Linked DNA regions of Homo sapiens. The protein of the gene in region 1 purifies or fractionates together with the protein of each later gene. This does not show direct contact. Each region holds a gene or a part of one and is shown on either strand. Other genes may lie near its edges.

The links.
Region 2: the proteins of IFFO2 (region 1) and SCCPDH purify together in Homo sapiens (co-immunoprecipitation; one large-scale study listed by IntAct). This does not show direct contact.
Region 3: the proteins of IFFO2 (region 1) and IFT57 purify together in Homo sapiens (co-immunoprecipitation; one large-scale study listed by IntAct). This does not show direct contact.

Annotation. Positions count from the first base shown.
Region 1 is NC_000001.11:18,918,561-18,922,216, forward strand, and holds part of IFFO2 (intermediate filament family orphan 2), read right to left. Parts: intron 2,562-3,656; coding exon 2,501-2,561; intron 1,214-2,500; coding exon 1,118-1,213; intron 1-1,117.
Region 2 is NC_000001.11:246,762,337-246,765,606, reverse strand, and holds part of SCCPDH (saccharopine dehydrogenase-like oxidoreductase), read right to left. Parts: intron 1,362-3,270; coding exon 1,250-1,361; intron 1-1,249.
Region 3 is NC_000003.12:108,194,837-108,198,492, reverse strand, and holds part of IFT57 (intraflagellar transport protein 57 homolog), read left to right. Parts: intron 1-3,656. UniProt on the Homo sapiens protein: Required for the formation of cilia. Plays an indirect role in sonic hedgehog signaling, cilia being required for all activity of the hedgehog pathway.

The DNA.
Region 1 (3,656 bases):
GGCAGAGAGGTGGGGAGACCCCTAGGTGTCAGCAGGGGTGGTGCGGGGAGGCCTCCAGAGTCCGAGGGTGCCTTGGGCTTTTCCGTGGAGTGGAGGGCTGCGGCGGCACTGGTCAGGGTGGGATGGGGTTGGGGCCTTGGGAGTCAGGGGCCAGTGTGACGCCGTGTGTGCTGCTCTCCCTAAGGGCTGGAAGGCATCCTCCCAGCAGACACAGGGTCCGTGTTCACTTTGTTAGAGCGAAGAAAAAAGACAACTCCCGCTGGAGAAAGACAGCCCTTCTTTTCCCACCGGCACACCCCACCTGTCCCCCACACAGGCAGCTCTCTCTCCTGGATGCCTCCCAAGGCCGGCAGTGGGAGTCACTGAGGACCACAGGGTTGATCCCCTTGGACACAAGTGAGAGGGAGCCCAGTGGCCTCCAACTAGGGTCCTGGGAGGCTTCTACCAACCACACCCAGCTTCACGTCCCTCCACACCAGGAGCCATGCCAGGCTCAGTCACCCACGTTCTGGCCCCTTCTGCCTTCTGGTGGGGTCTCCCCCTGTACTGCCCACTGTTTGAAGGGGAGGAGACCTGGGTCCCCAGCAGCAAGGAGCCCTTTGCTGCCAACAGCTCCCCCCACCCACAGATACTTAGAGGGGCCCCAGATTGTCAAAAAGACACGCGCACTGGCCTTTCCTGACCTCATGGAGCAACCCTGCCAAAGGCCGCTGGGCCTGCGAGTCTCTCAGGCCCGCACAGACCAGACGGCACCTGGCCCAACCTGCCAGACGCCCTGCTACGCCCAGACACCGAGGCCTGCCCTCATCAAGGCGAGCTGGGAAGGAGTGGGAGCAAACACACACAGACCATCAGGGGAGCCCGGGGGAGGGCGGGATAGGTTAAGCGGCAGATTAATGCATCTCTACTCAGACCGAGGGAAGCAGAAGTGGGGAGGGGGCGGGAGGAGGGTGCCTGGTCTCCGATGCATCCAATGCATCCGTCATCCTCATGGTCAAACACAGCCAGCCAGGATTCTAACTAGAAGCCGAGCCCCGGAGCCTCGGAGGGAATGAAGCATTTTGCATGATGGGTGTGGGGGAGGTCATGACACCCAGGGGCGGCGGGCGGCACTTACGTCACTCATAAGCCCCTTAAACACCACCAGCTCGGCCTTGAGCCGCTCGATCTTCTCATTCATCTCCTCCTGGATGGCATCAGCCTCCTGTGCTGCCTGCGGGGACGGAGATGGGGAGGCTTCAGAGGGGCCGGGTCCTCTGGGGATAGGAGGGTCTGGACACCTGAGTCCAGAGCCCTAGGCACCCGATGTCCACCCCAGCTGGGCACCTGCAGCCAGGGAAGGGGCACCAAGGACCTCATCCCAGCCTGACTTCCCACTGAACACTGTTGACTGCTTAAAACACTTTTCAAAGCGTTATCTATTACGTGGGAAAATCCATGGAAGGTATTAAAAGAGCAGGTTAATTAACAAGCAATCCTATTACGTTAAAAATATGAGATCAATCCGTGTGAAACTGCCAGTATTGGGCCATCTCTGCTTTCAAAAATGACAATGTCATGTGTGTCGACCTAACATGCGTCTGAAGAGCGTGGGTGTGTGTCCACACAGACAAGATCGGAAGGTCACACGCCAGTTTTTCAACTGTGGAAGGAGGAACTGGAAATAATTTTTATTTTTGGGCTTTTCTATAGTTTCCACATATTTGACGATGAACCCGTTAAATTTATAAAGAAAAAAGCCCTTTCATTATAAAAGAAAGGGAGATATTCAACCTTTTCCTTCTACGCATTGACAATTATCTTAATCTGTCTCTAACTGTCTTAGACGACAAATGCTTTCAGTATCAGAACGCAATTTCTAGACATTTTTGGAAGAACTTTTCATGCCTTCTCATGGGGTTGCTACTCTTGCTCCCACTTGTCAGAGAGGAAAATAGAGGCTGAGAAGATGAAGTTTGCTGCCCAGGTTACACCGCAGGTGGGGGAGTTGCAGAGCCCAGAATGCAGAGATTCCAGCTAGAGCAGCAAGGGGAATGTTCCCAAATGCCCACCACAGAGAGCCTGCTCAGGCTGGGAGCCCACCTGCGACGTGCCCACCTGCCCTCTCCAAGGCCTTCAGCCCCAACCGAGGGCACCCTTCTTGCTTGGGGGCTTACAAACCACCTAGTCCAAGCCTCAGGTGGGGAGACAGTGACGGGTGAGAAGGGTCGCTGGTCCCAGGTCATACAGCAGCTGGGACTTGCACCCCGGGACCTGGACCCAGGCTTCTCAACCCCTGCATCAGAGCTCTTGTGCAACACTGTGCTGGTCCATTCCTAGCTTCCAAGCAGAGGAAGTGGAAGGGATCTCTTGGCTCCATAAAGGAGAGACTGAGGTGGTAGGAGGTAACAGAGTAGGGGCTGTGCAAGAATTTCCTGGCTTTGCCGCATGAAGACTGTGCCCCTTGGCCACATGGCTCTCTGGCGTGCCTCTCCTGGTCGGGATATCGGAGGGCTCTTACCTCCTGCAGCGTGTCCACCATGGTCTGAAGGTTCATGCGCTTGGCGAGCTCCTCCTCCCACCTGCAAAAGCCAAGAGGAACAGGTGGTCAGAAGGTGAGTTCCCTGTGCCAGTCCAGCCCTCAGACACAACCCCAACACCCACCCAGGGACTATCTTGAGCTGGGCAAGGAAGGTGCATTGGGGCATCCATCCCTGCCTGCCCTCTGGGAGCTCCCAGCCTAGGGGAGGTGGTGTGAGAGGACAGCCAGGCTGACATATAACCAGAGTATCAGGTGGTGGTGACAAGTGCCACGTTAAGGTATGAGCCCAGCACTTCGTGAAGACAGAGGTGGGAGGGACCACCACCCTGCCTGCATGCAAACTGTAAAGTGCTGTGCAAGCACTGCTGCTCCTGTTGTTGCTGCAAGATGCAGTAGCAAAGCCAGTCCTTAGGAGCCAGGCTGCAGCCAGCTCCACTCTCAGGCTGTTCTTTGCACCCACAAGAAACAAACTTTTATTGTGCTAAGCATTGCGATGCCCGACAGCCTACCCAAACCAACACAGATCTCTCCTACGTAGGTGTTATCATTCCATTTTACAGAAGTGGAAACTGAGGCTCGGAGAGGTTAAATAAACATCTAACCCAAAGACACACAGCGAGTCAGCAGGTGGGGCTGTTTTATTACATTGAAACAAAACTCAATAAATACAGTTCCCACTGATTTAGCGTTTACTATGTGCCAAGCCCTGTTGTTCCAAGGGCTTCCACACCACTACTTTGACACGAGTACTGCCCGAAGCTGAATAGGAAACGCGGGCGGGAGGGGAGAAGGCAAAGGAGGGTTCAGTGGACCCCCGCCCTTAACTGCAGGAAGGGGTGGGAGCAGTTCCCTGGGACTGGATGATATTACCAATTCCAGAACCACCTTCACTGGGACTTACTTTGTACCAGGCACTGTTCTACATGAAGTTAATTCAATCCTCGTAACAACCTATGACGTAGGCACCGTCATTATCCCCAGGTGCAGAAAGCAAGGCCCAGAGGCACAAGCTGAACCCAAGGCCAGGGTGAGATAGTGTGGAACTAGGACTGAAACCCAGGTGGGGACGCTCCAGACTGGTTGCTCAGAATCCCCTTGCGGAGCTCCTCATAGACCCAGGAACTGTCAAAGCCTA
Region 2 (3,270 bases), about 230 Mb from region 1:
TCACTTAAAAACAACAAAAAAATCCTCTCAATTTTTTCTTAAAGAATAACGACTAAACATAAGTTAAAAAAATGTTTATAAACAAACGGAACATTAGCATTTATAATCCTGTCAAATAATGAAAATACAGTCAACTTACCTTAAAAAGTCAGGTGGGAATTTCAGAAAAGGGCAAGATGGAAACATACTATCATCTGGCTTGATTAAAATCCCCCGTGGGCCAGGCATGGCAATTCATGCCTGTAATCCCAACCCTTTAGAAGGCTGAGGCAGGAGGACTGCTTGAGCCCAGCCTAGGCAACATAGTGAGACCCCGTCTCAATAAAAAATTATAGCCTGTGACCTAAAAGGGCTGACAGTAATTATACTACAGTTCACAAGTGGACCTGTCTGTCTCTGACAGTAATTATACCACAGTTCACAAGTGGACCTGTCTGTCTCTGACAGTAATTATACCACAGTTCACAAGTGGACCTGTCTGTCTCTGACAGTAATTATACCACAGTTCACAAGTGGACCTGTCTGTCTCTGACAGTAATTATACCACAGTTCACAAGTGGACCTGTCTGTCTCTGACAGTAATTATACCACAGTTCACAAGTGGACCTGTCTGTCTCTGACAGTAATTATACTACAGTTCACAAGTGGACCTGTCTGTCTCTGACAGTAATTATACCACAGTTCACAAGTGGACCTGTCTGTCTCTGACAGTAATTATACCACAGTTCACAAGTGGACCTGTCTGTCTCTGCATAGTTCTGTAAAATGTACAGCAAAAGTTCTTGAACGTTTTGGGCAACATTCTTTTAACAACCTATCAGAAGCCATTCCCTTCCCTTGAAAAGTGCACGTGTGCATACATATTTTACAAACAATGTCAGGGTGTTCAGAGACTCTAAAGAAATCCTAGAGCACAGATTTGACTGACATTATAATTACACTACTTGCATATGAGATTCAAACAGGTGAATATCAACCAATCCCTTTTCCTATTAATACTAATTAAAATTTGCCATTCTGAATTACTGAATCATACTCCAAAAACAGCCAGAGGGAGGGATGCACTAATAAAATTGGATTATATCAATAATTTCAATCTTCCTTTGACAGAATAATTTTAAGTTACTTAATTTGTACAAATGTATTTCTAAAACAATTAAGCTTTAAAAAGAATATATTGTAATGGCATTGTACTTTATAGCTTAAGAGTATAAAATTCCCAAGCATTCTTAAGTGATATGTGAAATACCTGGTCCTTTCACCTGAGTACAAATTTTGATATTTGGTTTGTTCTTATCTGTACCAGTGCCTTGGCTGTATCCTTGACCAAAGAATGTCAGCGTGAATGAGGCAGCATCAATCTGTGAAGGAGAAGGCAAAGGGCGCATTTCATAAATACGTCATTTCCTCCTGGAACATAGTAAAACCGACTATTCTATTTCAAGTGAGACATTGTCAATAGATGAAAACATTATTTTATCTGCCAGAATATCCCGTCATCATTTAAGCAGGGAGCGAAAACTAATTCTTTGAAGCTGTCAGTTTTGAAGACTGGCGTGATGTTGGGGGGAAGGGGAGTGGTAAGAAATAGGGAGGAAATAAAGATGATCTGGAGATAGTTTTTATCGGGGGGCAGAATATAGAAATCTGGTTTTAGATACCTATTTGAGGCGACAAGACAAAAATAGCCAGCAAGTAATGGAAATATGGGCCTGGAGTATAGGTATATAATTGTTCCACTTAAAGATGTAAAAATTCGACTCAAAAAACTAAATTCTTGAGGACTTATCCTAGCATCTTTCACAATCACTAAATTTAGGAATGAGGTGATAAAGAATTCAATCATGATCAACACATTTTTATGAAGTATCAACTAAGGGTCAGATACCATTGAGGCCCTGAGACATAATTACTGCCTTTGCTGGAGCTTACAGTTTAGTAGGAGGAAAGGGGGGGAGAGAGAGATAAACAGATTAAATAACAATGTGACATGAACTAAAACATACAGGCATAACTCAGAGGAGGGTGTTATTAATCTACCAGGGCAGAGGGCAATGGTTCTGAACTGTATATATACACACACACAAACACATTTTAATGGTTGTTTTAAAACCCCAAAAGTAGATGGATTCCAGAAAGGAGAACCCATTATTTAAAGGGAAGAAGGGATGCAGTAGCATAGCCTTTCCAGAACATACAATTCAAGAGGTACAGACAAGGTCAGACACACATGCCACACCTGTCCCATCTCCTGCTATGGCGCCCACACTAATGGGTTCTAATCCTCTCTCAGGCTACACACATTGTCCGACCCAGCATAGTCTCTGGGTGGCTACTATCAATTAATCAAAGTTGGATGAAAAATGAATCCTATGTGCTATCCAGAACTAGATCATGAAGGGTCTAGGATGGCCTCACATCTCTGAAGATGGACTTTCGGCCATTTGTGCTCCAGGGGTGGGTACCAAAACCACTCAAATCTGGAACCTTCTTCCTTCCTCCGCAGTGGTGATTCTCAACCCTGGCAGCACATTAGCATCACTGGGCAGATTTAGAGAGCCCCAGTGCCCAGGCTGCATTCCAGACCAACCGAACCAGAGTCTCTGGTCATCTGTTTTGGGTTCTCTTCCAAAGTTGGGAACCACTGCTCTATGCTTTCAGGCCCCACTCCAGACCTACTGAATCAGAACGTCCAGAAGCAAGATGAGGGCATGTGTCAGTGAAAAAAGCTTCCTAGGTGATTCTTTTTTTTTTTTTTTTTTTTTGGAGAAGGAATCTCGCTGTGTTGCCCAGGCTGGAGTGCAGTGGTGTGATCTCAGCTCACTGCAAGCTCCACCTCCTGAGTTCAAGCAATTCTCCTGCCTCAGCCTCCTGAGTAGCTGGGACTACAGGCGTGCACCACCATGTCCAGCTAATTTCTGTATTTTTAGTAGAGATGAAGTTTCACCTGTTGGCCAGGCTGGTCTTGAACTCCTGACCTTAAGTGATCCACCTCCCTCAGCCTCCCAAAGTGCTGGGATTACAGGTGTGAGCCACTGCGCCCGGCCATGATTCTGATATATGAAATCTCAGTTAAGAATCACTGCCAAAGCAGTGGGCCAGGAACATTTTATAAAGAAGGCAATGACAAGGTCAGATTTTGTGTCTTAGAAAGATCTCTTGGACAGCAGTGGGAAGACAGATTAGAAAGAAACCGTAGGAATGCTACGAAAAGTTCAAGCAAGAGATGGAAGCCTGCACTACCAACCACGAGACAGAAGCCTGCACTAT
Region 3 (3,656 bases), on another chromosome or scaffold:
TCCAACCTGGGTGACAGAGCGAGACCCTGTCTCAAAACAAAACAAAACAAGACACACACACGCACACACCAAACATGAGGAGTGACAAGTGTTATAGTTTGAAGTAGGCATAATTAAGCATGACAAGAAAATCAAAAACATAAAATACAAATCTGAATGCATAAAAATTAAAACTTTATATTACAAGAAAGCAGAGTGGGGAACACCGTTAAGTTAAAATACAAGTGATGAACTGGAGAAAAATAATTATAGCCTATGTGCAAAGGGTTGATAGACATGTGCTAAGGTGTTTTAGAGCTTGTGCTCTAGAGTAACACTGCCTGACCTACCAATCACAAGATGTGACATTGAAAAAGTCATGTAACTATTCTGTGCCTCAGTTTCCTCACTTTAAAAGATGGTAATAAGACTCCCTGTTTCATGGTGTTATTATTGGGCATTTAACCCATATGTAAAAGCATCTAGTACCGTGTTTGGCATGTAATAGTAATGATAATAACTGCTAAAATATACCAGGGGTTAATATGTATTATACACTGTGCAAGCCTTTTAAATACATTGTCTCATTTAATGCTCACAGCAACCCTTCCAATGAGGAAGGTGCTGTTATTCTCATTTTACAGATGGGTACTCCGAGATTTAGAGAGGTTATGTAACTTGACCAACAGCTAGTAAGTCATGGAGGTGGGATTTGAGCAAAGATGTGATTCCAGACCCATCCTCTTAACATTTACACCATGCTGTTGTGACTCTTAAGACAACTTAGTTCCCTTTTCCTTGAGTCTTGGGAGTATTTAATCTTGAGAGTTAATTGGACTTTTAACACCCTCTCAGTAGGTATATGATATAAGCTCTTCAAATGAATCTGGACACTAGTATATCCATGAAGTTGCCATCTCATGTATATTTTTACAGAACATAGCCTTTCTTTGATGCTTGACCAAAGATTACTGGAACAGGATTCTAAGTAGGCTTTTAACACTGTATGTTTGATTCTTGAACTGACTTCGATGGTGTGCCCCACTGTTTGAGCCCAAGGTTACTTTATGGGATAGTGTAGACTGTTATTTTCAGTTCTTCCTTTGGCAGTTAGGATCAGTTCCCATCTCATCAGTTTCTCCTTTTACCTAGGACCAATTATTACTCCCATTAACTGGCCTCAGACTTTTCCTAGTAGTCTGCAAACTCTGCAGGCAGCATTTAAATCCTTTTAGCTTTCCACACCAAGCACAGTGCCTGAATTCTTACCTTGAATGTTGTAGGAGTTTAACAAATGGCTTATTAATTTAATTAATTATAAATGAGACTTCTAGATAACTTGTGTCTTATGAGCTTCTAATTGTTTCTTCTGCAGCAGTAACTGGAAAATGGAATTTCCCAAAAGCAATGCTTTATATTAGTTAATGTGTTAGAGAGGGACTTTGTCATGATGATATAAAATTTTGATTAAATGAAAAGCAGTTTATTTCTCTTGTACAAGTGACCCACATAAAGTACCATTTATGAAATGGAAAAACAATTGGGAAGAAAAATTTTCTCAAAGTATTATAACCAAGGCACAGTATAGTTTTAAAATGATTTATACTTTATATATAGGGCTTGCTCAGTTAATGTATCAAGTTATTAGGCATTAAGAAATGTTGAGTGAGGAATGAGGTTATGAAATAGATATGCAAACATGGATGTAGAAAGAAACTGTATAGTTTGAATAAGTTAATGCTGCTCTGCCAAACCTAATGTTCTCTTTTTGCCCTTTATTCACTTAGCAACTGGGCCATTTCCCCTAGTATATTAATTATGGCCTACGAGTGAGTGAAAATTTTTGAGCTCCTATGTTAAATCATTTTAGAACATTGGGAGTGGGAGTTAGCAAATCGTTGCTTAAGGGAACCAAATAATAAGCTAGTAAAGGTAAATGCAACTTACTAAAGGGCCCAACATAAAAACAAATAGCTTATGCAGTGGCATATCTTAATGCAGTGTTTGATCTTTATGTACCCTGCTGCCTCAGATTCTAGGTCTAGTTCAAATGGCCACTGCAAACCCATCTGCCTTTATGAAAAATGCCCTTCCTTCAGTAAAACATTTTGAGTATGTTATTCACAACTTGAACAATCCTACATCCAGGCCTGAAGAAAGTGGTAGTATGGACGGGTGTGCGCCCTTGTCTTGTTTGGTGATTCTGAACTTCAATCTTGTAAGGAGGGAAAGAAAGAGGGGTTGGAAATGAGGGTGGAAATGAGGGTTGGAGAGCACTGGCTTTGGGATTTAATCAACAGCATCTAGCTTCAGTTCACCCAAATGGTACTCCATAAATCAAACTTATTTTTATATATTTTTTATTTTTTTATCTTTAGTTATTATGAACACATAGTGCATATTTATGGGGTGTATGTGATATTTTGATACAAGGCATACAATGCGTAATGATCAGATCAGGGTAATTGGGCTATCAATCACCTCAAGCATTTATCATTTCTTTGTGTTAAGAACATTCCCGTTCCACATTTTTAGGTATTTTGAAATATATAATACATTACCGTTAATTATAGTTGCCCTATTGTGCTACCGAACACTAGGTCTTATTTTTTCTATATAACTAATGCAGTTTTAAATAACTATATTTTCATACCCAATAACCATTCACTTTTTATCCCTCCTCCCCGCTACCATTCTCAATCTCTGGTAACCATCATTCTACTCTCTACCTCCATGAAATCTACTTATTTTTACCTCCCACATATGAGTGAGAACATGTGATATTTGTCTTACTGTTCCTGGCATATTTCATTTAACATAATGACCTCCAATTCCATCCATGTTGCTACAAATGACAAAATTTCATTCTTTTTATGGCTAAATAATATCCCATTGTGTATATATACCTTGTTTTCTTTATCCATTCATCCCTTGATCAACACTTAGGTTGATTCCCTATCTCGGCTATTGTGGATAGTGCTGCAGTAAACATGCGAATGCAGATTTCTCTTTAACATACTGATTTCCTTCCTTTTGGGTATATGCTCCGCAGCAGCATTGCTAGATTATATGATAGATTTTTAGTTTTTTGAGGAACCTCCAAAGTGTTCTCCATAGTGACTGTATTAATTTACTTTCCCACCAACACTATACAAGTGTTCCCCTTTCTCCATATCCTTGCCAGCATTTGTTATTGCCTGTCTTTTTGATAAAACCATTTTAACTGAGGTAAAATGGTATCTTGTGGTTTTGGTTCGCATTTCTCTGGTGATTAGTAATGATTAGTGATCATTTTTTCGTATAATTGCTGGCCATTTGTATGACTTGTTTTGAGAAATGTCTCTTTTTGATCTTTTGCCTATTTTTTAATTAGATCATTTGGGTTTTTTTCCTACTGAGTTGTTTGAACTTCTTATATATTCTGATTGTTAATCCCCTTTCAGATGGGTAGTTTGCAAATATTTTCTCCCATTCTGTGGGTTGTCTCTTCATTTTGTTGATTGCTTCCTTTTCTGTGCAGAAGCTTTTTAGCTTGACATGATCCCATTTGTCCATTTTTGCTTTGTCTATCTGTGCTTTTGAGGTCTTACTTAAGAAATCTTTGCCCAGACCAATGTTCTGGAGTGTTTCCCCAGTGTTTTCATGTCATAGATTGAAGTGTTTAATCCATATTTATT